7 linked regions of the Homo sapiens genome follow. The protein of the gene in region 5 purifies or fractionates together with the protein of the main gene of each other region. This does not show direct contact. Each region holds a gene or a part of one and is shown on either strand. Other genes may lie near its edges.

Evidence for each region.
Region 1: the proteins of DCPS (region 5) and PUM3 purify together in Homo sapiens (affinity purification with mass spectrometry, with the first as the bait; one large-scale study listed by BioGRID). This does not show direct contact.
Region 2: the proteins of DCPS (region 5) and SMCHD1 purify together in Homo sapiens (affinity purification with mass spectrometry, with the first as the bait; one large-scale study listed by BioGRID). This does not show direct contact.
Region 3: the proteins of DCPS (region 5) and CSTF3 purify together in Homo sapiens (affinity purification with mass spectrometry, with the first as the bait; one large-scale study listed by BioGRID). This does not show direct contact.
Region 4: the proteins of DCPS (region 5) and PARP14 purify together in Homo sapiens (affinity purification with mass spectrometry, with the first as the bait; one large-scale study listed by BioGRID). This does not show direct contact.
Region 6: the proteins of DCPS (region 5) and SRSF9 purify together in Homo sapiens (affinity purification with mass spectrometry, with the first as the bait; one large-scale study listed by BioGRID). This does not show direct contact.
Region 7: the proteins of DCPS (region 5) and NIPBL purify together in Homo sapiens (affinity purification with mass spectrometry, with the first as the bait; one large-scale study listed by BioGRID). This does not show direct contact.

What each region holds. Positions count from the first base shown.
Region 1 is NC_000009.12:2,837,596-2,841,095, reverse strand, and holds part of PUM3 (pumilio homolog 3), read left to right. Parts: intron 1-2,578; 5' UTR 2,579-2,588; coding exon 2,589-2,670; intron 2,671-3,500. UniProt on the Homo sapiens protein: Inhibits the poly(ADP-ribosyl)ation activity of PARP1 and the degradation of PARP1 by CASP3 following genotoxic stress. Binds to double-stranded RNA or DNA without sequence specificity. Involved in development of the eye and of primordial germ cells.
Region 2 is NC_000018.10:2,697,226-2,700,725, reverse strand, and holds part of SMCHD1 (structural maintenance of chromosomes flexible hinge domain-containing protein 1), read right to left. Parts: intron 2,896-3,500; coding exon 2,685-2,895; intron 188-2,684; coding exon 67-187; intron 1-66. UniProt on the Homo sapiens protein: Non-canonical member of the structural maintenance of chromosomes (SMC) protein family that plays a key role in epigenetic silencing by regulating chromatin architecture.
Region 3 is NC_000011.10:33,098,981-33,102,480, forward strand, and holds part of CSTF3 (cleavage stimulation factor subunit 3), read right to left. Parts: intron 3,360-3,500; coding exon 3,197-3,359; intron 738-3,196; coding exon 628-737; intron 171-627; coding exon 54-170; intron 1-53. UniProt on the Homo sapiens protein: One of the multiple factors required for polyadenylation and 3'-end cleavage of mammalian pre-mRNAs.
Region 4 is NC_000003.12:122,679,629-122,683,638, reverse strand, and holds the start of PARP14 (protein mono-ADP-ribosyltransferase PARP14), read right to left. Parts: upstream 2,801-4,010; 5' UTR 2,756-2,800; coding exon 2,569-2,755; intron 1-2,568. UniProt on the Homo sapiens protein: ADP-ribosyltransferase that mediates mono-ADP-ribosylation of glutamate residues on target proteins. In contrast to PARP1 and PARP2, it is not able to mediate poly-ADP-ribosylation.
Region 5 is NC_000011.10:126,331,560-126,335,059, reverse strand, and holds part of DCPS (m7GpppX diphosphatase), read right to left. Parts: intron 1-3,500. UniProt on the Homo sapiens protein: Decapping scavenger enzyme that catalyzes the cleavage of a residual cap structure following the degradation of mRNAs by the 3'->5' exosome-mediated mRNA decay pathway.
Region 6 is NC_000012.12:120,463,961-120,466,748, forward strand, and holds part of SRSF9 (serine/arginine-rich splicing factor 9), read right to left. Parts: intron 1,828-2,788; coding exon 1,667-1,827; intron 163-1,666; coding exon 1-162. UniProt on the Homo sapiens protein: Plays a role in constitutive splicing and can modulate the selection of alternative splice sites. Represses the splicing of MAPT/Tau exon 10.
Region 7 is NC_000005.10:36,988,269-36,991,768, reverse strand, and holds part of NIPBL (nipped-B-like protein), read right to left. Parts: intron 1-3,500. UniProt on the Homo sapiens protein: Plays an important role in the loading of the cohesin complex on to DNA. Forms a heterodimeric complex (also known as cohesin loading complex) with MAU2/SCC4 which mediates the loading of the cohesin complex onto chromatin.

The sequences.
Region 1 (3,500 bases), on a different chromosome or scaffold from region 5:
AGCAAGAGGAGATGCCTGGAGGAAAATATGTGGTGCTTGATTAGATTTGGAAACATCAGTATGAGCTTCAAGTTATTGTAATAGATATAAAAATAAATATAGGTATGTGCATATGCATAAGTTAATATACATATATGTGTTTCCTGAATCTGTCTGCCGAAAGGACATAGAAACAGGGACACCTCAGTGACAACAAGTGCGCCTAGCACTCAGATCTTGGTTTTTAAATACCATTCTCAATGAAAGGAACCAGGATTCCTTGGAGAAGTGGCTGATTTCAGGGCTAGGTTAAGGAAAATACAGAAGGAACCTGGAGCCAGTGCCAGGAAATAAGGATGTGCTTTAAAAGCAAAACAAAACAGTTGGGCCGCGTCAAAAGGACACAGAAGCAACCTGAGAAACTTCCCCCTGGCTGGAGCTAGCATTATTTGAGCAACAAAATAACAGTGGTATTGGATTATAACCAAGGAATGAAATAAATATCTGAGACTATATGATACAAGTAAATAGATGGAAAAGATGGGACAAGTCTTCCCTACAGAAAAGTTGAGAATAACAAAGGCAAAAGTAATAAGAGAAATAGAAGATCACCATTTAAATGCAGTAATTGCTGCAGGCGATATCCACCGACAAATGCTAAAGTTAGCAGGTAAAACTTAGGAGGACATAGGATGTCTACATATTCTCCAAACATCTTGTCTAAAATGTTTATTAATTGCTGTGGTAGTTTAACGTATGCCTGGATTCTTTAGTACCCCTCCTTCTGGGAAGTGGAGCTTAATTTTCCTCTGACTTTGGGCTGGACTTGGTGGTTTGGATCTAATAAAGATGGAAAGGTTAAAGTGGCAACTTCACAGTGGAGAAACCTGGAAAACACTACTTTGACCAAGTGAACACGGTTAACATAAACAGTAATAAGTCATGTTAATGTCATGTACCTCTTGATAGAGTACTACCAGAAGAAAGCTTGACCTCTGGTAGTCTTCCAAAAAATGTGTAGCCTTAGCCTAATCATGAGAAAACATCAGGCAAACCCCAAATGAGGAATATTCTACAAAATACAAAGGAGACTTGATGGCCAGATTCAGTGTATCCTGGTACAGAAAGAGGATATTAGTGGAAAAACTGGTAAACTCCAACTCAACTCTGTAGCTTAGTTAACTGTATGTTAACATTAGGGGAAGCTGGGGAAAGGGTATATGTGAACTGTGTATCTTTTCAACTCTTTTGTAAAGCTAAAATTATTTCAATATAAAAATTAGAACAAACATACAGAGAAAACATGTAAATGAATGGATTCTTAGAAAACTACAGGTGTAGAAGAGCTGAGAGATGCAGGTATGGTTATGATGGCCATAGCCAAGTAATAATGTGACCCTTCAGTTCTAAATGCCCTGAGGAAGCTGAGTAATTCAGGGACTGTCCATTTTTCAAAATCATTAGAAAAGTCTAGATTAGAACAGCACTTTCCAGAGTACTCCTTGGAAGTCTGCTGTTCCCTTATGATGTTCCAGGAAAAAGTGGTTCAACTGGAGTTGGAAAATCCTGCATCCTTTAGCCTTTGCTTGAGAATTGATTGTATATATTAGCAAATTAAAGAATCTGAAAAGCCTTTTCTTACGGGCTGATTCTTGTCATTTAACTTACTGTTTCCCAAATATATTTTATCCCAGAACCCTTCTTTTCTCTTATGGTAATATCCTGAGAAATTAGTTCTTGAATGGGCAATTCTAATCTAGAAATATCTGGTGTTGTCTAGGGATCCCTAACATCTGTTGTTTACAGCCAGCTTTCAAATGAGTTGATCGTCCAACTTTGGAAAGTGGAGAAATGAGCCAAATGGCTTTTTCTCTTGATCTGTTCTGCTGCTTTCAGGGACCTTGGGTAGGTGAGGGGTTATAACTTGTTTATCCTGTGCACCATGGTGTCTCAGTAGCCTATAAAGCGCCTATTAGACAGATTCCTTTCAATGAAATATTAACTATTTCAACATCTTATTTTGGAGTTCACTGCCAATTGCTTGGCTGCGTCTAAAACAATCACAGATTAAACACTGGATGCTAATCTTTGTTTTAGCTGTGTTGGATTGCATAGGAATCTTTCAGATAATCCTTTATTTTCTTATATTAAATGCATGTAGTGGTACATGCAGCCTATTGTTTGTTCCTGGCTTTTTAGGCTCCAAGAAATCAAGCGATAATTTTGTCAGTTATTCATCCCCTAGTCTTCCCAGGTTACAAAATGCAAACTCTGATGCTTATTATACTTAGTGTCAATAGTGGTCTATTTTTAGCCAGTACTATTGTGGAAGTGAAGTGATGCCTCCAGAGATATCAAACACTGGCCAGGGTGTGTGTTGTTCTTAGTTTTTTTATTGATACCTTGTTCATTTTCAGTTTTAAAATTTGAGTCAGTGATTGCAAAATTGCTGGATTTAAGTACTTGTCCATTCTATATCTGGCTGATTTGTATTGTATTTGTAGACTGAAGGACTAAATGTGGCAATGACTATGAAACAGCTCTTATTTGATGAAGAGAACTGCAGTGATTGTTTTTGGTTTTGGTTTTGGTTTTCCAGAGTTGCTACGATGGAAGTTAAAGGGAAAAAGCAATTCACAGGAAAGAGTACAAAGACAGCACAAGAAAAAAACAGATTTCATAAAAATAGTGGTAAGATATGCTTCCCATGTGGGTGTTTGGCTGTTATAATTGGGGGATGGGAGGGCATGTAGTAAATTTCAATCTGTATTCATTGGCTAGGATTAGGATTAAAATAGTAGGAAGAAGTATGTGTTATTGTGTATGAGTTAACATGTTGCTCATGACATTTAGACACTTAAGAAATTGCAAGAATGATTGAGGAATGCCTTATTCATGAAAGACTCCTTATCTCAGTTGTTGCTGCTGTTGCCTCATTTTATTCACACTAGTTCACCATACATTTTATTTTAACATTTGATAAATTAGGACTGTTTAATACATACTGCTCATAAGCCAAATACGTTTAGGTTCAGAATTTATAATGGTGATGTCTTTATTATTCCATCAGGTGTCAGTATTGTAAAACAGAAAAGTCAAGGGACTATACAAATGATTAATGTTTCCTTAATGTTAGCCATTACTGTTTGCATCTCATTTGTTAGGTACTAATTTGTAAGCCTTCTTGATCAAAAGTTTTTGATAAATAATTTTAATATAGGCTTTAAAATTTTCTTAAAACTAGAAAATTTTAAAATTAACATTTTAGATGTCCTTATGATATACTTTCCAAATTTCAAGAATGTTCAAGAAGTCATTTCTTAAGACTTCTTTTGTTATTGAACTCTTGAAAATTCTGTGTAGACCATCATTAAAGCAGAATACAAAGGTATATAAATAATAGCTCTGCTATATGCTTAAAACTAGAGAAACATACCAAACTGACACCAGTGTTTATCTTTAGTGGTAGAATCATGGGTAGCTTTTATTTTACATTTCTCTACTCTCTAGGTGGTTTTATA
Region 2 (3,500 bases), on a different chromosome or scaffold from region 5:
AACAAAATGTTAGTTAGTAAAAGAATTAAGTTGTAAAAACATAATTTCAGCAAAAATCAAACTTACTCTTCAACTGATGTATATGGTATTAATCGTCCATTCCAAAAACATTCAAAAATAGGCCTTTTCCCTCTAGCTGCTTTCTCAAGTATGAAACAATCATCTTCATCATCTTCATCTTTTAATTCTAGATCAAAAGGGCAAATGGAACAAAATGTTTATTGCTAAAATGTGAGAAATAATGAAACAAACACATAAATGTTTCAAATTGCATTCTATAAAACCTAAAGGTAGTTTTATACTGTTTGCCCACAAAAAGGTAGGTTTACAAAGTGGTTCCACATTACGAATGCTGTCTGTCATTTAGAAGTCAATAATTACTTATATATGAACCAATGTACTAGCTGCTGGGCCTGTCATCTTTAAAACCTATTCATGAGGCTAAAAGAGTCTTACATCCAAAAAGATTATCCCCTATAACAAAATCCCTCCTTCCTACAAATATAGGAGCTTAAATCCCGTATCTAAAACAGTTTCACAATTTTATCAGAACTAGTATGTTCACATGAAAGTCATCTGAGAAATCTATGACATCTAATAGCAGCGAGTTTACCTAGTTTGAACAAATTAGTGAATGATGCTAAAATTAAGTTTACTTTTTAGAAATTATTTTCAGATTCAAGTAAGCATGAAAAATGTACACAGAACTGTAAGACATGTTACTATGCATCAAGAGCATTAATTTGCACAATTGTCTATAATCTTATGTTTATTAGCAACACACTCTCGTGTATCCAGATAAATTAGGATTAAACAATGTGATCCTGACATATTAACACCTCAGCTACCCTGGAATTAGTTTACCCACCTAAAACAAAACCTTCTCCCTAAAAGCCCTCACAAGAAGTCCCTTATATAAAAGCTGCTTTCAATCAAACAAAATCACTTTGCTCTTAGAGGAGAATCCCTCTGATTGATCACTCAACTTACTTGCTCTTCTTTTTAAGGCAGCATTTGAAAAAAATTATATCTTTTTGTCTATTAGCACACAAAAATTGGAAACAGCAAATTTAAGAGGTCAGAGATGGCCAGGCACAGGGGCTTACGCCTGTAATCCTAGCACTTTGGGAAGCTGAGGTGGGAGGATTACCTGAGCTCAGAAGTTTGAGACTACCCTTGGCAACATGACAAAACCTTGTCTCTAATAAAATACAAAAAATTAGCCTGGCATGGTGGTGGGCACCTGTAGTCCCAGTTACTCAGGAGGCTGATCCATGAGAATTGCTTGAACCTGGGAGGCAGAGACTGCAGTGAGCCTACATTGTGTCACTGCACTCCAGCGTGTGTGGCAACGCAAGACTTTTGTCTCCAAAAAATAAAAAACAAAACCAAAAAGGCCAGTGGAGCCACTGAGTAACAATATGTACTGGGCAGGAGCACTTAATAAATAGTGTTGAGCACTATTCTGAGAAGTTGCCCCAGTTTTTAAATTTGATCTTCACAACACCCCTATGAGGTGTGAACTACCCATTTCCCAGGTAAGGAAACTAAGGCAGGGAGTAGTTTGTCCAACAGAAAGTGGCAAAGATGGGATTCGAATCAGGATCTCTGGTTGCAGGCCCTAGAAAACCAAGAATGTACTAAGGAAGTATTCTGAATGAAAAAGTTTAATATTGTTAACCTATAAATTCAATGCAATCCCAATAATCTCACTAGAATTACTTCAAGTGAATGTACAAAGCTGATTCCAAAATTATCTAGAAGAGCAAAAGTATTCTCAAAAAGGAACAATAGTGAAAATGTTTTTTCCCAAAGATACCAAATTACAAGATAAAGCTACAAGACAGTATCATTACTCATATTAAAAAAAAATAAAATAGTACTTTATAGTAAAGAATCTAGACCTATGTACTTATGGGAACTTTGTATTATACAAGTTCTAACTCTTGGGTAAATTATAACATTCAATAACTGGTGCTAAGAAACTGAATATGAATACCACATAGAAAATAATTGTTAAATCCCTATCTCTCTACTGGGGGGGGAAAAAAAGGTGGGGGCCAGGTGTGGTGGCTCACACCTGTAATCCTAGTACTTTGGGAGGCCAAGGCAGGAGGATTGTTTCAGGCCAGGATCTTAAGACCAGCCTGGGCAACACGGCAAGACCCCATCACTCAAAAATTTAAATAAATAAATAAAACCCCACCTTGCTCTACATACAAAAAAGAAAAACACAGATGCATTGACCATAAAATGACAACAAAAACAAAAAAGCTACAGATTTATATAATTTTGAGATGTAAAAAGCCTTTCTACAGTAAGACAAAATCAGAAAGCATAAAGAAAAAGTTAGTAAATATGACTGCATAAAGTGTAAAACTGCAACAAGGATAAAGAGAAGACAAGGGAACATATAAAGGATTAATACGCATACATATCTAAAAGTTTGGTTTCGTAACAGAACTAAAAGAAGAGTTCATTAAAGATTTATTCATCTAGAAATGAATGTACACAAAAATCAGGAATTACAAAAATTACAAATACCTAACAATCTAAGACTTGCATAAGAAAAAATTTAATATTTATCTAACCTGAATAACCCAACCGATAATCATTTAGAAAAACAAATCACTGTCCTAAATTACAACTTCATATTTTATAACTAAGATAACAGATTAACATACTTGATGGAAAGCATGGATCATCAGGGTAAGTTTCTCTATCATATAAGAATGGATGATAACGGATAATCCCTTCCACTACACCATCTCCTTCAACATGAGCTTTGAATTCAAAACTATCAGCTGCTGTGTTTACATACAACGTCTGCATGTCGTCTTGTATTTCCCTTAGGTTGACAATCTTAGGTACCTTCCCTTTTTCAAACATAGAAATCTAAAATAAAAAGGAAACAAAAATAATTAAATTCTATGGTAACTTTACTTTTGTTCTCAGCTATGATTCAACAACAGAATAAGTAAAAATTATGTTTATTTGTACAAGTAACAATCTGGCTTAATGAAATACATATATTTACATATGAGTTAAACAGCTTTAAGTAGCATCTCAATAAGGAACATACTACTAAAAAATATAAAGTAAGCAAAGAAACAGCAAATCAGAGCTGAAGGACAGAAAAGTCATGAGTACATTTAATTCGAGGTTTCTTGCTAGAGGTAGGAAGTGGGACAACATCGTATGTGAAATTCTAACGTGTGGGTTAGAGGATTGAGAATCCAATACTCAAATGCTCTGTGCTGCTAAACCTTGTCACCACGATATAACTTCTACAAACAAAAGGAAAGCTACATTATCTCCCTTTTCCTCCATGCTTCAAGAGATGATTGATGTTCAGTAACAATGCATAGCTCCACAGAAGAGAGACAAAAAAAGATAAACCAAGCCTACAGTAAATAAAGGTTTGAGAAAAATACATCTAGGAATAATCTCTTTAGTTGGATATCAAACAATGAAAGTAGTTTGGTAAAAAACAAGGAGAG
Region 3 (3,500 bases), about 93 Mb from region 5:
AGTCCTGCACTAAAAAATTGAATTATAAGAAGGCTCTAAACATTTTTACTTACCTCTTCATAATCTGCATATGCAAAATAAAGAAGCATATTCTTCTTCAATAAAGTGCTTATGGCTCTTTCATATATATTAGCAGCTTCATCACTAAATAATTTGGCATTATTCATATCCTGGTAGAAAAAAAAGAAAGCTCATCTTCAATAATTTTAATATAGTTGTGAGAGAATAAAATTAATAAAGTTACATCTACTTTATTTTATTTATGTGTCTAAGAAAGCATACATGTATGTACACACATATATATGTATCCACACACACACATACATAAACACATATGCATTTCTGGATTCTAAAAAAATTCCAAAAACTCCTTTCATTATTTTAACTTACAAAATAACCATGCAAGTACTCTAAATGATTCATTACTTTGATACGTTAAAAAACTGCCAGTTTATTTTAATTCTAAGGAGGTCTAATTATATGAGTGTCACTAAGATTCATATGAACGTAAACTTAAATTTTCAATACTTATGCTTTATTACCAAAATTCAGTTATATTTTTCAGTAAATAATTGCTATATCAAAACCACAAAAATATCAAAGTGGGGATAGGGAAGGAACACTTACTCCCTTTTCTGCGAGCAGTTTACTTGACTGCTCAAGATACTGGGCAGCTTCATACCAAATATCAGGGTGATGGCCCAGCACAAGCAGGCACTGTTCATAAGCAAACATAACTAAGGGAAGAAATTAACAAACAATATTCAATTAAAATAATTATTATTTGTAAAACTATCAATGTAAATATCATAACCAAATTAGGCTCCTCAAAAATTAATGATAATTAGAAATAAAAAGCTTTAGTGATTTCTGGCACCATCATCCATCCAAGTTCCCTCCATCTATCCATCACTTATTAATTTTTTTTATTTTTGGAAGCAGGGTCTCTGTCACGTAGGCTGGAGTGCAGTGGCACAAATATGGTTCACTGCAGCCTCGACCTCCTGGGCTCAAGTGGTTTTCCTGCCTCAGCCTCCCAAGTAGCTGAGACCAGGCGTGTGCCACCACATCTGGCTTATTTTTAAAAATCTTGTGGCCAGGTGCGGTGGCTCACATCTGTAATCCCAGCACTCTGGGAGGCCAAGGCAGGCGGATCATAAGGTCAGGAGATCGAGACCATCCTGGCTAACATGGTGAAACCCTGTCTCTACTGAAATACAAAAAATTAGCCAGGCATGGTGGTGGGTGCCTGTAGCCCCAGCTACTCTGGAGGCTGAGGCAGGAGAATGGCATGAACCCGGGAGGCACAGCTTGCAGTGAGTGGAGATCACGCCACTGCACTCCAGCCTGGGCAACAGAGCAAGACTCCATCTCAAAAAAAAAAAAAAAAATCTTGTTTAGAGACGGGGTTTCACCATGTTGCCAAGGCTTGTCTTGAACCCCTGGGCTCAAGCAATCCTCCTGCCTCAGCCTCCCAAAGTGCTGGGATTACAGATGTGAGCCACTGCACCCAGCCTAAGTTAATACTTATTGAGCACCAACTATATGCCAGGGAATGTGGAAGGCACGGTGAATATACCAGTGAGTAAGACTTCCTATATTCAAGAAGTCTGCAGTATACGGGGAGGACAGACAGAAAGCAAAGATCAAAAGGATTATGATGATGAAAGTACAGTATACTCTGAAAACTTACAGCAGCAGGACTTAACATAGTTTAGGGACTCAAGAAAGGCTTCACTAAGGAACTGACATCTAGCACAACACCTGAAGAAGGGATGAAGCTGGTCAGAGGCAAATAAGTGAAGTGGAGTAAGGATGGGGTAGATACAAAAATGGAGTGGGCAAAGGAAACAATATTTGCAAAGACCTGCAAGTAAGATAGCAAGGCAACAGCAAGGCAAGATTGAGGAATTCAATAAAGCTCCAAATTAAGAGTCTGGCACTGACAGAGTAGTTTGTATCAGACCAACCCTCAGCAAGTAAAAATTATAAATAAACAAAACACAAATACAAAAGCAACTATCTAAATGTACTGGAAATGACCAAAAGAAGCAGAAATCAGGAGACTGAGCCCTTAAAAAGACAGAACAACACTAGGTGAGATCCATATTTAAATATGGCTTTTCCCTTCAAACGCATGCCCATGTTGTGCACTTCTGGGATAGCTAGAACTCAAGTCAAATGCTGCAGTCTTACTGTCTTGAAGTAACATGGAGTTCTGGCCTATGAGAGCAGCTGGAAATTGAGGAGACATCCCCAAAAGGAGAAAGCCAGATCCCGAAAATCTGGGCATAAATGTTCTCAAATCCTCAGCTGATCCCTAAAATGTACATACACAGGGAAGAATACAAACAGACCAGCAGAAAACAAAGCTGGAAGGCAGAAAGAGTTAAATAGATACCTCAGCAACTAAGGGAGATGAAGTTTAGAATTTGAGTCCGATCCAATTAGATGGTTGGGGTAAACACCTTAGACTTTTCATTGTCTTAGGAGTAAAGACTATGTCCCAAGAATAAGGTATTTAATCTGAGATTAATGGTAAAACTAAAACAGACCTGTCTTCATAGTATAAAACTAAGCCTCCACAAAGTCCAAGTAATCTGACAGTAGTATTTAACTTCCTGCTAAAATAAAACATTCTTCAGAGGAAGATGACAGAATCTACAGTCTTTACAATGTTTCATTTGTACATTTGTACAATATCTAAAAGAAAAAATTTAAACAGGAAATAGGGAAATGTAAACCACAGTCAAGAGAAAAAGCAATCAAAGAAAATAAACTCCATGGTGGTTGAAGGCCCAGATGTTGGAATTGGCAGATGAGGACTTTATAACTACTATTATAAATATGTTCTAAGAAACAAAGAAAAAGATGGTAATGAACACACAAGGAATCTCAACTAAGAAATGGACACCATAAAAAAGAAATATAAAAAATAAAAAATTTCTAAAATGGAAATTTATAGAATTGAAAAATATAGTATCTGAAATAAAGCGTTCACTGGATGGGCTTAATTGCAGACTGCATATGATGAAAACAAAGGTTCAGTGAATATGGAGATAGATCTATAGGAATTATTGAATCTGAAGAACAAAAGAAAAAAAGATTAGGGGTAAGAAAATTTTAGTAACCTATGGGGATACCAAGTGGCCTAACATACATGTAACTGAAGTCCCATGAGGGTTAATCATGTTACCTCTTTTTGTTATAAGGGTCTGATCCTCTGTACGAAGAGGGTTGCTCTTTTCCCACTGTATATATTTCTTCCACATATCTACTTGTTGAGCTTCTTGAGGAGTATTCTGAGGAGGCACCGAGGGAGCATTACGGTCCAAGCCTTTCATTACTGTCTCATATTCCTAGACAACAAGGATTTAGAATTCTTTGGTGAGCCAGGAACAACTGAGATATATGGCGGATGGGGTAGATCAGTTTGGAAGACTGTTCAAGATGCCTACTTTTTCCAAATACCACTTTGTTAATATAATCTAAAAACTATT
Region 4 (4,010 bases), on a different chromosome or scaffold from region 5:
TCTTCCACCTGCACCAACTTTAGATCATCAACATTTAATTTTATTTAAGGAGAAGATGGGTTCTTACCACAAGGAACCCGACAACAACCAGGAACCAAACTATGTTGGTAAAGTATGATAAAATAGACACATCTGAAACAGGGCTTAAAATGTTATGTCAATTTACACCAACTTTTCAGAAATCCAGTGAACTATATAAAAGTGAGATACAGCTTCCCATTTGTTTCTATTTGCTATACATGAATAAATACGGAGAAGTGCTGGTGGGCTCATTCTTGTTATCTGCCTATTACAGTTTATATGAATCAAATCAGGTTATGCTATGGGCCCGCACCTGTTGAGGCCACTTCCTGGCATGGAGGGTGGAGAGTGTCCTCTGCAGAAGAAGAATGCACTTCTGGGACTTCAAGCGTAGGTCATTCATTGTTAGCAAATTCCTGACCCTTGTTACTGAGAAAGTGGTTCCTCAAGTAGGAAACTGAAACTGACTAGGGATTTTCCACCCCCAAGAACTTAGACCATACTAGGTTTCGAGTTTGTTTTTGTTTGTTTGTTTCTTTTTGTTTGTTTGTTTTTGTTTTGTTTTAGATGGAGTCTTGCTCTGTTGCCAGGCTGGAGTGCAGTGGTGCGATCTCACCTCACTGCAACCTCTGCCTCCCTGGTTCAAGCAATTCCCCTGCCTCAGCCTCCTGAGTAGCTGGGACTATAGGCGCACACCACCACGCTCGGCTAATTTTTTTGTGTGTTTTAGTAGAGACAGGGTTTCACCATGTTGCTCAAGGATGGTCTCGATCTCCTCAACTCGTCATCCACCTGCCTCAGCCTCCCAAAGTGCTGGGATTAACAGGCGTGAGCCACCACGCCCGGCCGGTTTTGAGTTTTAATAAGTTTTGGGTCATCTGTGCTGGGGGGTAAGACAAGAGGGGCCACTGGAGCAGCCTGGGGGTGGAGGAAGAGGAGTAGTGGGCTGGGGCCGGTCAAGGATGGAAGCCCAGCAGGAAGACTGAAATCTTTTCTGCTTGGAGGGCTAGAATTGAGTTATTTTATCATCACAAAATTATACTTTGTGCTATTTGTATTTTCATGCTGTTTAAATTTGTATAATTATTTCTTTTTGTTCATTTGGGGTTAACATTAACTACGGAAATTCTGAAACTTGAACACATTAGGGTCACCTGGGCTGCCGGTTAAATACACGCTTCCCACCCACCCCACATTCACTGAACCTGAATCTCTAAAACAGAGCTGGGAAGGTGCCTGGTTAACCTGCTCTCCAGGTGATTCAGATGCAGGTCAGACCTACTTCTAAGGATAATGGAATCTAAAGGAGAAAGAAGCATCCTTAAGGGCCAGATCGATGGTGATGCTGACCTCTGAAGTCAAAGTGGGGAAAACCCTCAAGGAAAAGTGACACCCAAAAGAGAAATGACTAATATCACACAGTTGCCCTTCTGAGCACTCCTTGGTAAAATTAATCCTAGGAAAACATGGTATTTTGTTTTCATAAGGGCCATGAGCCAAGCATATCTCCTGTCCCCCTCCTTCCTTCCTTCTGTGCGCCATTCTTTTTCTGTTTCATTTTTCCTTTTTGGATCCCTGCTTGGGCACTCTAATTGCATGGCCTCAGCCTCAGCCTCCTTGCCTCTCCTCTGGCCCGAATGCTTCTCCAAATCTAGCGACATGAAAGCGGAATTAGGGGTTGACTAGATCCCGATAGGTCATCATCCATAAGATGCCAGTGGAAAAGGTGCCCATTCTGGGAGCTGCAGGTCACTGGCTTCCCATTGCAGACCAGGGAGGCCCTTGAGCCAGCAGATCACCTCTGGGCTCTTGGCCCACCAAGTAGTGGTGGGTCTGTAAGGAGGGAACTTTGCCGACTTTCCCTCCAAAGCTCAAATCTCCCAACCCACAATCACTTCAGAATATCATCCTTGCTCCCAATCTGAGGGCCACTAGAGACTCGGAGAAGAGGCCCCGGCAGGCCCTCGACAATGGGCACCTGTGGTCGATCGACAGCCCCTCCAATGTGGCCGCTGTGACGGCTCTACGTTGACATTCAGGCAGTGTGATTTTAGGTAGCGCCTCTGCCCCTCTCCCAAGTGACCCCGGGACCCCTGGGAATCTCCAAGAACCACAAGGAATCTCTGTGACTTGCCACGTTTCTTAATCAGTTTCCTTCCCCACACAAGAATAATAACAACAGGAAAAGACAGAAAAGGATGATAAGAGGATAGACTCACTTCCACAACAACAACAACAAACAATAACACCACCACAACAGGGAAAGACAGAAAACGATCGAGGGATAAAGAGTTACTTGCGCGGTTCCGCCGCCACCTCCGGGCCGCGCCATTAAGCGCCTGGAAGCGCAGGGCGCCGGGGAACCGCAGCGCCCCGGGTGCGCTCGGAATCCATTCTGCCGCCCCCGCCCCCGCCCCCGCCCCGGCCACCTCCGCTACAGCAGCCGCCGAAGTCGGGCGGGTCACCCTCCCGTGCGTGCCCTGCCGCCATTTCCCTGGAGGGAGGGCAGAGGTGCCCCCTCCTCACCCCACCCCTCGCGCCCCTCACCGTCCTCCGGGTAGAAGAACACCAGGAAGCGGGATGGGCTCCTGGGATCCTGGCGGACCTCACACTCGCCGCCTCCCGACCTCTTCGGGCTCTGGAAGTACATCTGCAACTTGGTGTTCAAGTTCTTCGGGGGGTCGGGGCCCCAGGAGCCCTCGACCAGCAGCGGGAAGGAGCCGGGCACAGCCATCCTCAGCTCCGCTCTCCGCCGGACTGCAGGGGCCGCGCCAACTCCGGGCCGCTAACTTTGACTCTTTCGCTTTCGTTTCCTGGAAAACTCCCAGGCCTTGGTTTCCTTTTGCCTTCAGCCTAACACAGCGGACCCAGGAATGGCAGAGTCATCCCCCGCCCACCTCCCCACCTTCGCATTCGGCCCACAGCCAAGGCCAAAGTAACCCTTTGGGGCTGGCCAGCGGCGCCCCGGGAAGGCGGCCTCAGTTCACCTGTGCTCCACGGGCTCCCACACCCCCTCCTAACTCCGGGCCCCCTACCTGCCGCTCGCCCCAACCGCAGATCAAGTCGGCAGCTTTGGGGCACCAGACCTTGCCCAAACGCAAAGATCATTTAATTTTTGCCGCAAGCCGACCCTTTACAAAAGAATAAAATGACTCACAAACTGTGGCCCCTTTAGAATGTTTGCTGCCTATTTGGGGACTTTTTCAGCAATCATTGTGATTATCAGAATTTTACGTTGCTTTCCCTGTTTTGCTTTCTGTTCCTTGATCTGTTAATACTACATGTCTAGAAATGTGGGGGAAACAATTACACTCACAGTTTTTTTTGTGGAATATTTACTAGGCGCCATGCACTCACTCACTGAACCCTCGCTGAGCTCACGGAGCTATGGTGAACACAGTGGGCAATAGGTGCTCTGGGAAAGAATATACTTGTGTTCCTGGAACAGATGAGGAGTGGCTCCTAGTCCAGCTGTGGCGGCTCAGGGAGGGTTTATAGGGCGGTGACATGTAACCTGATAACCCCAGGATATCAGGGGATAGCCTTGGAGGGTTAGGAAGTGGGGTTCCACGGTGTGATTCACATGTACAGGATCACTCCGGCTGCTGCGTGGTGGCTAGAGTGGAGGCAGAGAGATCAGCCAAGTGGCTACCATAGTGTCCTAAGTGAGAGACAAGGGTGGCTGAGACTGGGGTGCTGGCAGAGAAGAACTGAGAAAACGAGGATTCTCAATTAATAGTGAAAGCAGGACTTGCTGAAGAATGTGAGCCTTGAGAGAAGGAGAAGCTCAAGGATGACTCCATGGTCAGCCATGGATGGCCCGTGCAAGTGGCTGGATAATAGTGGCATCTGCAAGAGGGGAGGCCGAGTGATGGGAGAGAAGCTGGGGCTGTGTGTTTCCTTGACCCCAAATAAAGCAGTGTTGCAAGTCGAGGGGGGCGGGGGGATTATCATTCCAGTGCTACCGATACCTCAGGTCAGAGAAGTGT
Region 5 (3,500 bases):
ATCCTGGCATCATTCTGTGCTGGAAACAATAGCAGGCACATGATATATGGCACCTCTCTCAATTTCCACAACACCCAGGAGGGAGGAGCCATTAGTTACATTTTTCAGACAAGGAAACCAGGGCTCCGAAATTAAGGACAATGTCACGCTGCTCTTAGATGACAGACTGAGAATCCAAACACCAGGCTGAGGTTGAAGTCTAGCTGGATGACTCACAAACAGACATTTGTAACTAGATGATCTCAAAGGCTCCAGATCCAGACATCCCACTGCAGTTTTTACTGGGAAGTTATAAGTACCTCACATCTAAGGAGCCAAATAGTATCTCTGGCTTAGGGCACAGATACTGGGACCAGACTGCCTGGCTTTGAGACCTGTCTCCAAAAGGGCTGCTGTGAAGAATAAATGAGGTGTGAGGCTGGGTGCGGTGGCTCACACCTGTAATCCCAGCACTTTGGGAGGCCAAGGTGGGCAGGTCACTTGAGGTCAGGAGTTTGAGACCAGCCTGGCCAACATGGTGAAACTCCGTCTCTACTAAAAATACAAAAATTAGCCCAGCATAGTGGCGGGCGCCTGTAATCCCAGCTACTTGGGAGGGTGAGACAGGAGAATCACTTGAACCTGGCAGGAGAAGGTTGCAGTGAGCCGAGATCACACCATTGCACTCCAGCTTGGGCAACAAGAGTGAAACTCCATCTCAAAAATAAATAAATAATAAATAAATAAATAAATGAGGTGTGATGCGCATAAATGCTTAGAGCAGTTCTTGGACTATACATAGTAAGTGCTCAATGAATTCCAAACTGAACTCACTGTCTTCCATGCAAACCCACTCTTCTGTTTCTGTCCCCTATACTGGGTCATGAATTATCCTTCTATCCACTCATCACCCAACCTCTTCCCTCCCCTCTGCACGTCAATCAGTTGCTAAGCCCCATCCAGCCCTGTGAAGACCTACCTCTTAAATTGCTCCAGAATCCTTCCCCACTGTCCCTACCTTGGTTCAGACCCATACTGGTTTTTCCCAGTCTTCCTGTTCTATGCTCACCCCCACTCCACCAATTAATTCTGCAAATCGGGCCATATCATCCACATGCTTAAAACCGTTTAGGGCACCCTCACTGCCTATGGCAACTGTTCTCACATCTGATGGTTGTCAGAAATATCAGAGAGAGAGAGAGAGAGAGAGAGAGAATTCCCAGCTCCACTCCCTGAAGCGTGAGATTCAGCAGATATGGAATAGTGCTCTGTGCTCGGTATTTATGAAAACCCCCAGGCAATCCTGATGGTAAGCAAGGTTCAGGAACTCCTGGCCCCCTGGACAAAGTCCACGTGCCTCCGCCTGGCCCCTGCCTACCATCTCAGTGCTGTCTCCTCTGACCCTCCAGCAGCCCAAGCCCCAGTCACACCAAACTCCTTGCAGCTCCCCCAAAGCATCGGATGATTCCAGCTCTGTGTGCCTCTGGACTTGCTCCTCCCTCCCCTTGTGCACCTGGTAAACTTCTATTTGTCCTGTAAGACCCAAGGGGAGGATCCTCTCCCTGTGAAGTCCCAACTGTCTGCGCTGGTCACTGTCCCTCTGCATCACCACGGTAGTTCGTCTAGGCATCAGAGTGCTTATCCCATTGTCACAATTGCCCGTTTACAAGTCTATCTTCCCTGTTACACTGTGAAGATCCTGTCTAGGTTTCATCATCTTGGTGACTCTCCAAAGCCTGGCATAGGACCAGGTCCATAGTAGGTACTCAGTAAACATAATGAGTGTTGCCAGTTAAGCTGAGTGCTTGTAAACTAGAAATAGCCAAGAAGGAATACATGAACGGCTCCCGTCAGTCAGGAGTTGGAAGAGTAGTGGAGTTTTCATTGTGCTCTTCTCCGAATGGAACTGCATAATGGTATATAATAAGGAATATACATGGCCAGGCACAGTGGCTCACACCTGTAATCCTAGCACTTTGGGAGGCCAAGACAGGCGGACTGCCTGAGCTCAGGAGTTCGAGGCCAGCCTGAGCAACATGGCAAAACCCCATCTCTACTAAAAATACAAAAAAGTAGCCAGGCATGGTGGCAAGCACCTGTAATCCCAGCTACTCACACCAACCACATCAGGGCTTCCTTACTTGAATCTCAGGTCTGCACAACCAGCACAACAGAACAACTGTTCCAGGAGATTCCCTAGGACCCTGAACAGCAGAAACTCTAAGAAGGTGGAGATATAGTTCCTTTTCACTTGGAAAACAGAACAAGTGCTGGGACTTTAAAAACAAACAAACAAACAACAACAACAACAACAAACAAGTCAGCTTGAGCCAGATGCACCCCACGCAAACTGCTGCCCAGGGAGACCAGGGCTGAACCAGGCTGGGGAAGGGGGCTGGCGGCACACAGGTCTCCCAAGGAAACTTCATTCCTGCAGGCCCTGTCAGCCTCCCTTTCCTTACTCCTGTCAAGTACAATTCACCTTGCAGTGCCCACACACACAGCGTACCCTCCCTTCTTCTGGGCCAGGGAGGAGTGGCTGTGAGTTCCTCACATCACAACACCCTCCACCACAGTGACCTGAATCTTGGGGAGAAAAGTGAGAAATGCTCGAAGAGAACAAGGGTGAGTGATAAAGACAAGGCACAGTGTCAGAGTCAGTGAGTGGGCAAGAAACTGACTCATCAATAAGCATCAGTCATATTTAACTCTGAGTACTCACATGGGGCCAGTTCCAGGCAGAGGCTCCAGTTGGCGCTGGGCCTAGGCCCAGGGAGGAGTCAGGATCTTGGAGCTAAATGGCCTTGCATCTGGCCTGGCCAGACGACTGCCAGCTTGTGAATGGAGTCCCTGCACCAAATCCCCGGGGCCAATGGGGTCCTGCCTTCTTTTGGACGAATGCAAGGGGGAGTCGGTGAGGGAAGAGTTTTTCCTCTGAGACTGAGATCCTGCAGGCCGGTTTGCCGCAGGTGAAACCAGGAATAAGAGTCTGGACAGGGTGGGACTCACTCAACATCAGCCTTTTACCCATTCATGGACCCAAAGCAATGGCACAGTCATCCCGAGGCTGGATCAAGGCTACTGCAGAGCAGACACACATTCTTCCAAAGGACTGGATTGCTTTGAGGTCCCCAGAGAGCCTCCATGGCATGCCCAAGCACATCAGGTGGGACCAAGACCAGCATCAGTTCCCCCACCCCCAAAGCCTTCTCTCGCCATGCGATATAAAATGGCAATTGCCCGCCCCAGGCCTTCTGGTCCCACTTATCCTGTCTATTTCTCTCTGCAGCCCTCATTATCTCACAGAGCACATAGATCCTGAGATATCTGTGTATGGTCACACACCGTGTGACTGTGCATGGGATGTAAGCTGCACGAGGTGGGGATTCTGTCCGCCATGCTCTCTACTGTACCCCCATCCCCTCGCCCAGCACAGCGCCTGGCCCCTAATATGACCCCAATAGACACTCGTAAGAGGAGGCACCAGCCACGGGAGCAGTGCTCTGCGTCTGAGACATGCA
Region 6 (2,788 bases), on a different chromosome or scaffold from region 5:
GGAATTTGGTGTCATCCAGTTTACGCAGGGCATATTCCATGTCTTCTTTTCTGAGATACTCGACCATCCCCACTCCATCCTTCTGCACATCAGCATAACAGACATCCCCAGCTTCTCGCATGTGATCCTTCAGGTCCTGCCAGCTGCCTGACGGAGGAAGTCCTAGGCATGGAGAACATAAGAAAGCCCACATCCTTCAGCTATGTTAACTGCCCTGTTAAGAGCCAGCAATACCTATGGTCCTTTCTCCATGATCACTTAAATCCTGAGGGTCCCCAAATCATAAACCTTGATAAGGGACATGAAATCAGAAAAGAGCACTGAAGTATGTGTGGTAAATGAACCACCTTGAGAAGCTGGTTTTAAGTTCATCTTCCAGAGACCAGGCCTTTTCAACAGAGCAAGAAGTCCATCCCATTACAGGTTTAGTATCTTTGAGAATTCATAGCCTCTTTCTTTGTCCTTTAAAATCAATGCCAAACTCCTAATACTTTGAGTTCCAATTTTTTCCATTATGAAATTTAACAGTACCAATTATTTATTGCTTGACAGGGTTTCACAGGACATGGGAATTTTGAAACCAGACATGAAATAACCAAAGAGTAGCTGAAGGTAACAACACAACAACAAAAAATCTAAAGTTTGTTTTCTTGTAGGTATGAATGACAAACTATACAGAGTACCTCTTAAAAGATCACCAACATTCTTCAATACAGTGGGGGGGAAGGTAAGACTCAGATGCTAAAACTAGTCGGGAGTCATACAACCCTACCTGATGTCATGAAAGGGAAATGTGCTCCTGCTCTCAAAGGCTGTGTTTACCGCTCACAGCTCAGGACTGCAGCCATTTCCTAATAGTTTTCTAAGCAGGATTTCAGAGCAGCATGGAGAGAAAAAAAGATAATGTATGACATCCTGAAGGAGGGAATAGAGTTCTGGGGTTAAAAAATTACAAAGGGACACAAGATAGGCAGATACTGAGAGTATCACTCTTAAGCACATGGGAGTATGCTGTGATTGTGTGACATTCACATCTTAAAAAGGTGCCAGGCTCCTCGATTTATTTCATTCCACCAGGGCCCTAAAACTCCCATGCAATATGCAGAAGGCCCCAGGTCTTTCCAGTGTGTTAATATTTTGAAGATAGATAAACCTCCCAGTTTAGCATTTCATCACTTATAAACACTAGACAGAAATAGTCTATACTTTCCAATAAAATCTCTAAGACTCTTAAGTTACGGGGTTTTAAAAAATATTTAATTCTAAAACCACCACAAAATCTGATCTTCTTCAGGATCCAAGGCTGGGTAAGTTGTTCAAATCTGGCTCCTTGAATGCCTTTCTACCATGTCTGATGCCAAGTATATTCCAAAAGAAGCATCTTTAGAATTGTAGCTCAAGTTTTCCCATCATCTTTCCTTCTCACCACTAGAAAACTCCTTTACAAGAAATATGGTTATGTTCTTCCAAGGCTGCACTCCCAGCGCAATTTCATTTGCAGGATACTTTCCTCATTGGCAATCCAGGGCAAGGCTTCACACAGGCTATTGAAAAGAAAGCCCCCGTGTCCCATGCACTGAAGAATAACAGCTATCATTTCTTGGAAGACAGACTCTGTGTTAAGTATTTTACATGTATCATCTCATTCTGTTTGAAAGGAACATACCTGAAACAAGAACTCGGAAATCAGATCTTCTTGTAGGAGGCCCATTCCTCCCACCACGGGGCCACCCACCCCGACCTCCATAAGTCCTGGGGAACTCCACACGAAGCCGACACTGGCCATAATCATAACCATTTCTTCCATAAATAGCATCCTCTGCATCTCTAAAAAAAACAACAACAACAAAAAAAACGTTTGGAGTTAGTGCTGTTCAGGAGGCCAAGTGACTTTCCAAGTGAGGGGCATGAGTAGTAAGCATAAAAGGGAAACCTAGAGTGAAGAAAAAAACACACAAATCAGGATCCTGAAGCACTTCTGCTTTGGTTTGGAGACGTTTCATGATACTGGAATTAACCTTTACAGCTGTCACACGCAGTTTTAGAGGTATGAAATTATAATGAATGAGCAAACAGATTACTCATAAGAGGGCTAATTCAGAGAAAAAAAAGAATCAACTGCTGACAGATTATTGATTTTGCCAATAAACCATCAGTGTTTTTCTAATCTTCGTGAGCATTTTCTCGAAAAGCACACCACACACTAACCCCTTAATATTTTTCTACAAAGCCTAGTGCCATAAAGTCTATGGAAATAAAAAGTAGGCGGTTAGCCAGGCATGGTGTTGCACGCCTGTAGTCCCAGCTACTTGAGAGGCTGAGATGGGAGTGCAGAGCCAAGATCACACTACTGTACTCCAGCCTGGGTGACAGAGACCCTGTCCCAAAAAACAGGAAAAAAAAAGTAGCCAGTTAGATAGGAGAGTATTTGAGGGTAAATAAAGTAGCTGGGCATGATGTTTGAGCCCAGGTCAGGCCAGCCTGGGTAATATAGTGAGACCCGGTCTTTTAAAAAAATAAATAAATAAGGCTCAAAGGACAAAAGAAAAATGCAAATGAGTGTTTTGTGATGAATGTGGAACTTTTTTTTTTTTTGAAACGGGGTCTTGCTCTGTCACCAAGGCTGAGTGCAGTGGCTGGAGCATAACTCACAGCAGCTTCTAACTCTTGGGCGCAAGCAATCCTCCCACCTCAGCCTCCTGAATAGCTAGGGCCACAGGCGTGTACCACTGCACCCAGCTAATTTTTGGATTTTTTGTAGAGACAGGTCTCCCTCTGCTGGCCAGCC
Region 7 (3,500 bases), on a different chromosome or scaffold from region 5:
TCCTAAAAAAAAAAAAAAAAAAACTTGGGCAGGCATAATGGAATAGTTCAGTGACAATTCTTCCACTAACCTACCCATATAACACAGAAGCACCAAATGGATCTTCAACTTCAATTAGAGGTAAGTGGGGGCAAAAAAAAATTTTCAATACTGCATGTAAATGACAATTTACTACTCATTATGTAAGTAACAACTTACTACTCATTACAGAAAAGTAGGGGGCAGGGATCAAATGATTCTTTCCTTGATATGTATACACGGTGAGAAAAATAAATTGTGGCAGTAATATCTTTAAATCTACACTGAATATAAAGTACAGATACATAAAAAGATTTATTTTAAAAAATTACTTTCTTCATTAGATAAATTCAATTCAATTAGAAATTGAATGACTGTACTTTCCTTTATATAAAAAAATCAGACATACTTTAGCTTTTACTATAACAACATTCATTTTTGTCTTTATAACTGTATAAAGTAGGAGGGAAATTGGTTTCTTTATTTTAAAAGCGAATGAACCAAGCTTTGAAAGGTTAAGGCTTATTCAGGGTTTTGATATTAGTTCTCTTTGTACTATAATTTGTAATAAGTTTAAAAGAGAATTTTTAAAAATTGATACATTACAGCCAGAAAACGCTAATATTTTTATAGGCAAGACAGAGAGATCCATATTAAAAAACCCATTTTATTGGTGGTGTAATACTAGTAGGTATTCATACTCTTAATTTCACATCAGGCCCTTGTAAAGAAGGGTTTCATTAAATTTTTTTTTTTTAGAATATAAAAGGGAATTTAGCATGTCAAAGATTATTTCTTCATAAATAGGCACAGGGTCTTACAGAATTAATATTTGCTAGCTCCTTAGCTGTTAAATCATATACCTATTTCTACAGACACAAGAACCCTATAGAAACTATGTCTTTGGGCTGGCTTAAGAGACAGAATGGAAAGGAGAGAGAATACCTCCAGCAAACTTTAGTTTTTATAAAAAGGTTTCTACTTAATGCATTTCTTTTAAGCAATATTTGTATGAACAATCTATTAAGCATACTTTGGAAAATTTCTACAAATGGAAATCATGAGTACAAATTTTCAAAATACTGCTCTAAAGTCACAAGAGCTAGATACAGATTATGCCAACTTCTGTAATAAACTTTCTCCAAACATTTCCTAAAGATATCACTGATATCAATCTTTACAGAAACTGAAAATTTGAGTTTTTAAGAAAGGTATTTTATAAAACTGTACAAATGAAACAAAATAAATTTCCACTGCATCATTAAATATTATTCAATATTACAATCTACTTTAAAGAAAACACCGAAAATTCCTCATTTAGGAATTAATAAACTGTGCTATAAATTCACTCTCAGAAACAATACTTTCAGACTTGCAGAAGCTGAGGATCCTAAACACCATCTAACTAGACTGGTTCAGTGCTAAGTAAAAGGCAACCAGCTGATGATAGTTATCAGCATTTAGTAGTGTAACTGTAACAGTAGATAACTGAAGTGCGATCACTGTCGCTAGTAAGGCCTGCAATCATTAGCTCATCAAGTGAGCAATATAGGCTAATCGCTATTGACTATTAAAGCTGCTAGATACATTCCCAGTGAAGACTACTTTCAGAAACTGCTTTACTCTTCAGTTTAAAGGATGATGTCAAATAACAAATAATACGGATATTTCTTGAAAGCACTGAGTCCACACAATGGAGAATGATATACTAGTTGGAAAGAAGTAGGGGGAGAGAGAAGAAAAAATGGTTTCCTTAGACATAAAGCAAAGATATTTTGAGACACTCTGGAGTTAAAAAAAAAAACAACAAAATCAAATATGTTTGTAATTACTGATAATAAGCTGTTAATAACACTGAAGGCATGTGTTAGTTGATGATTATGCCAATTTTTTTTTTTTTTTTTTTTTTTTGGAGACAGAGTCTCGCTCTGTCACCCAGGCTGGAGTGCAGTGGCACAATCTCAGCTCACTGTAATCTCCTCCTCCTGGGTTCAAGCGATTCTCCTGCTTCAGCCTCCTGAGTAGCTGGGGCTACCAAGTGCCTGCCACAGTGCCTAACTAATTTTTGTATTTTTAGTAGAGGTGGGGTTTCACCATGTTGGCCAGGCTGGTCTCTAACTCTTGACCTCAAATGATCCACCCACCTTGGCCTCCCAAAATGCTGGGAGATTATGCCAATCTTAAAGGATCTCATAACTTTATTATTTTAATTTAGAGACACTATACATTAGGGTAATAGTCTAATAAAATTTTTAACAACATATTTTTTGGCATGTAACATACTGATTGAAGTATATTTTAGTAGAAGATATTTGAAGAACTTAAAAAGAATTCTACAAACAGTTACACTGCCTGACTGCCCCCTCCACCCCTCCCAGGCAAGGAATAAACATGGTGATGGAAAGATAGGGAAGTTAACAATGCAGGATAAGAATGGGAATAATATTAATCCCAGTATAGATCAAAATAAGTGTGACAGAAAAATTAAACACATATTACTATAAGCAGGTTTTCTTTGGATCTTAACAAAAAAACTAGGTAGTTGACAGGGTGAAGAGTTATTAACAATGTTTAGGAAGCAGGATTTGAAAAATAAGTAGCTCTTGAGCTAGGGTGTATTGATGGGAACATAAAAGACGATTATCTAATTTTAATCTGTACACAAAAGCTTTTCCTGAAAATGGTGGCAACATCATCTCCATTCAATAGGCATTAAATATGATTTATTATGTATGAAGTATTTTGTTAGGTACTAGGGATACAGATATAGTGCCACAGAAATCAAATCAAATGTAACAATGCCACTTTACATTTATCATGCTCATACAAAAGACAAAAATAAGTAATCTAAATTAGGAGTAATAAATCTATACCTCTATCACACAATCAAAATTTATCAGCTTAAAATATATCCTAAAGAATGAATATTTTCTATATGAACATCAGGTAAAATATTTAAAAGATGGAAATTTATGGCTCTTCAATTTTGGCCCTAGGAACCAACCATACAAGTATCCCAGCAGTATTCAGACTAACTCCTTTACTCAGAAAATCATCAACACATCAAAATGTGATTTTCTGTGAATCTCCAAAGAAAATCCCAGTATATACTACAAAGGGTCAGTAATCTACAACTGTGCTTCATATACATGCAATTTTAAAAAATCCACAATTACCCAACTCTGCTATTTAAACTGAGTAGCAAAAATCTAAAACAAAACCAAAATTGGATCATTACTAAAAAAAAAAGATATGGATCCTAAGACATAAATAAATTAATCCAAAAGATAGCTACACGGCATCCTGAAATGCATCTAAGCACTGACATAGTATTTTTTGATGAAAAGGACTGTTACTGTAATTGCAGTTACATTAATATATGTGTATATATACACAAACATGCACATGTACACATACACACACATCACTCTAATAGGCAGACACCCAGATAGCTTACTTACATACTAACATGACCATATCAG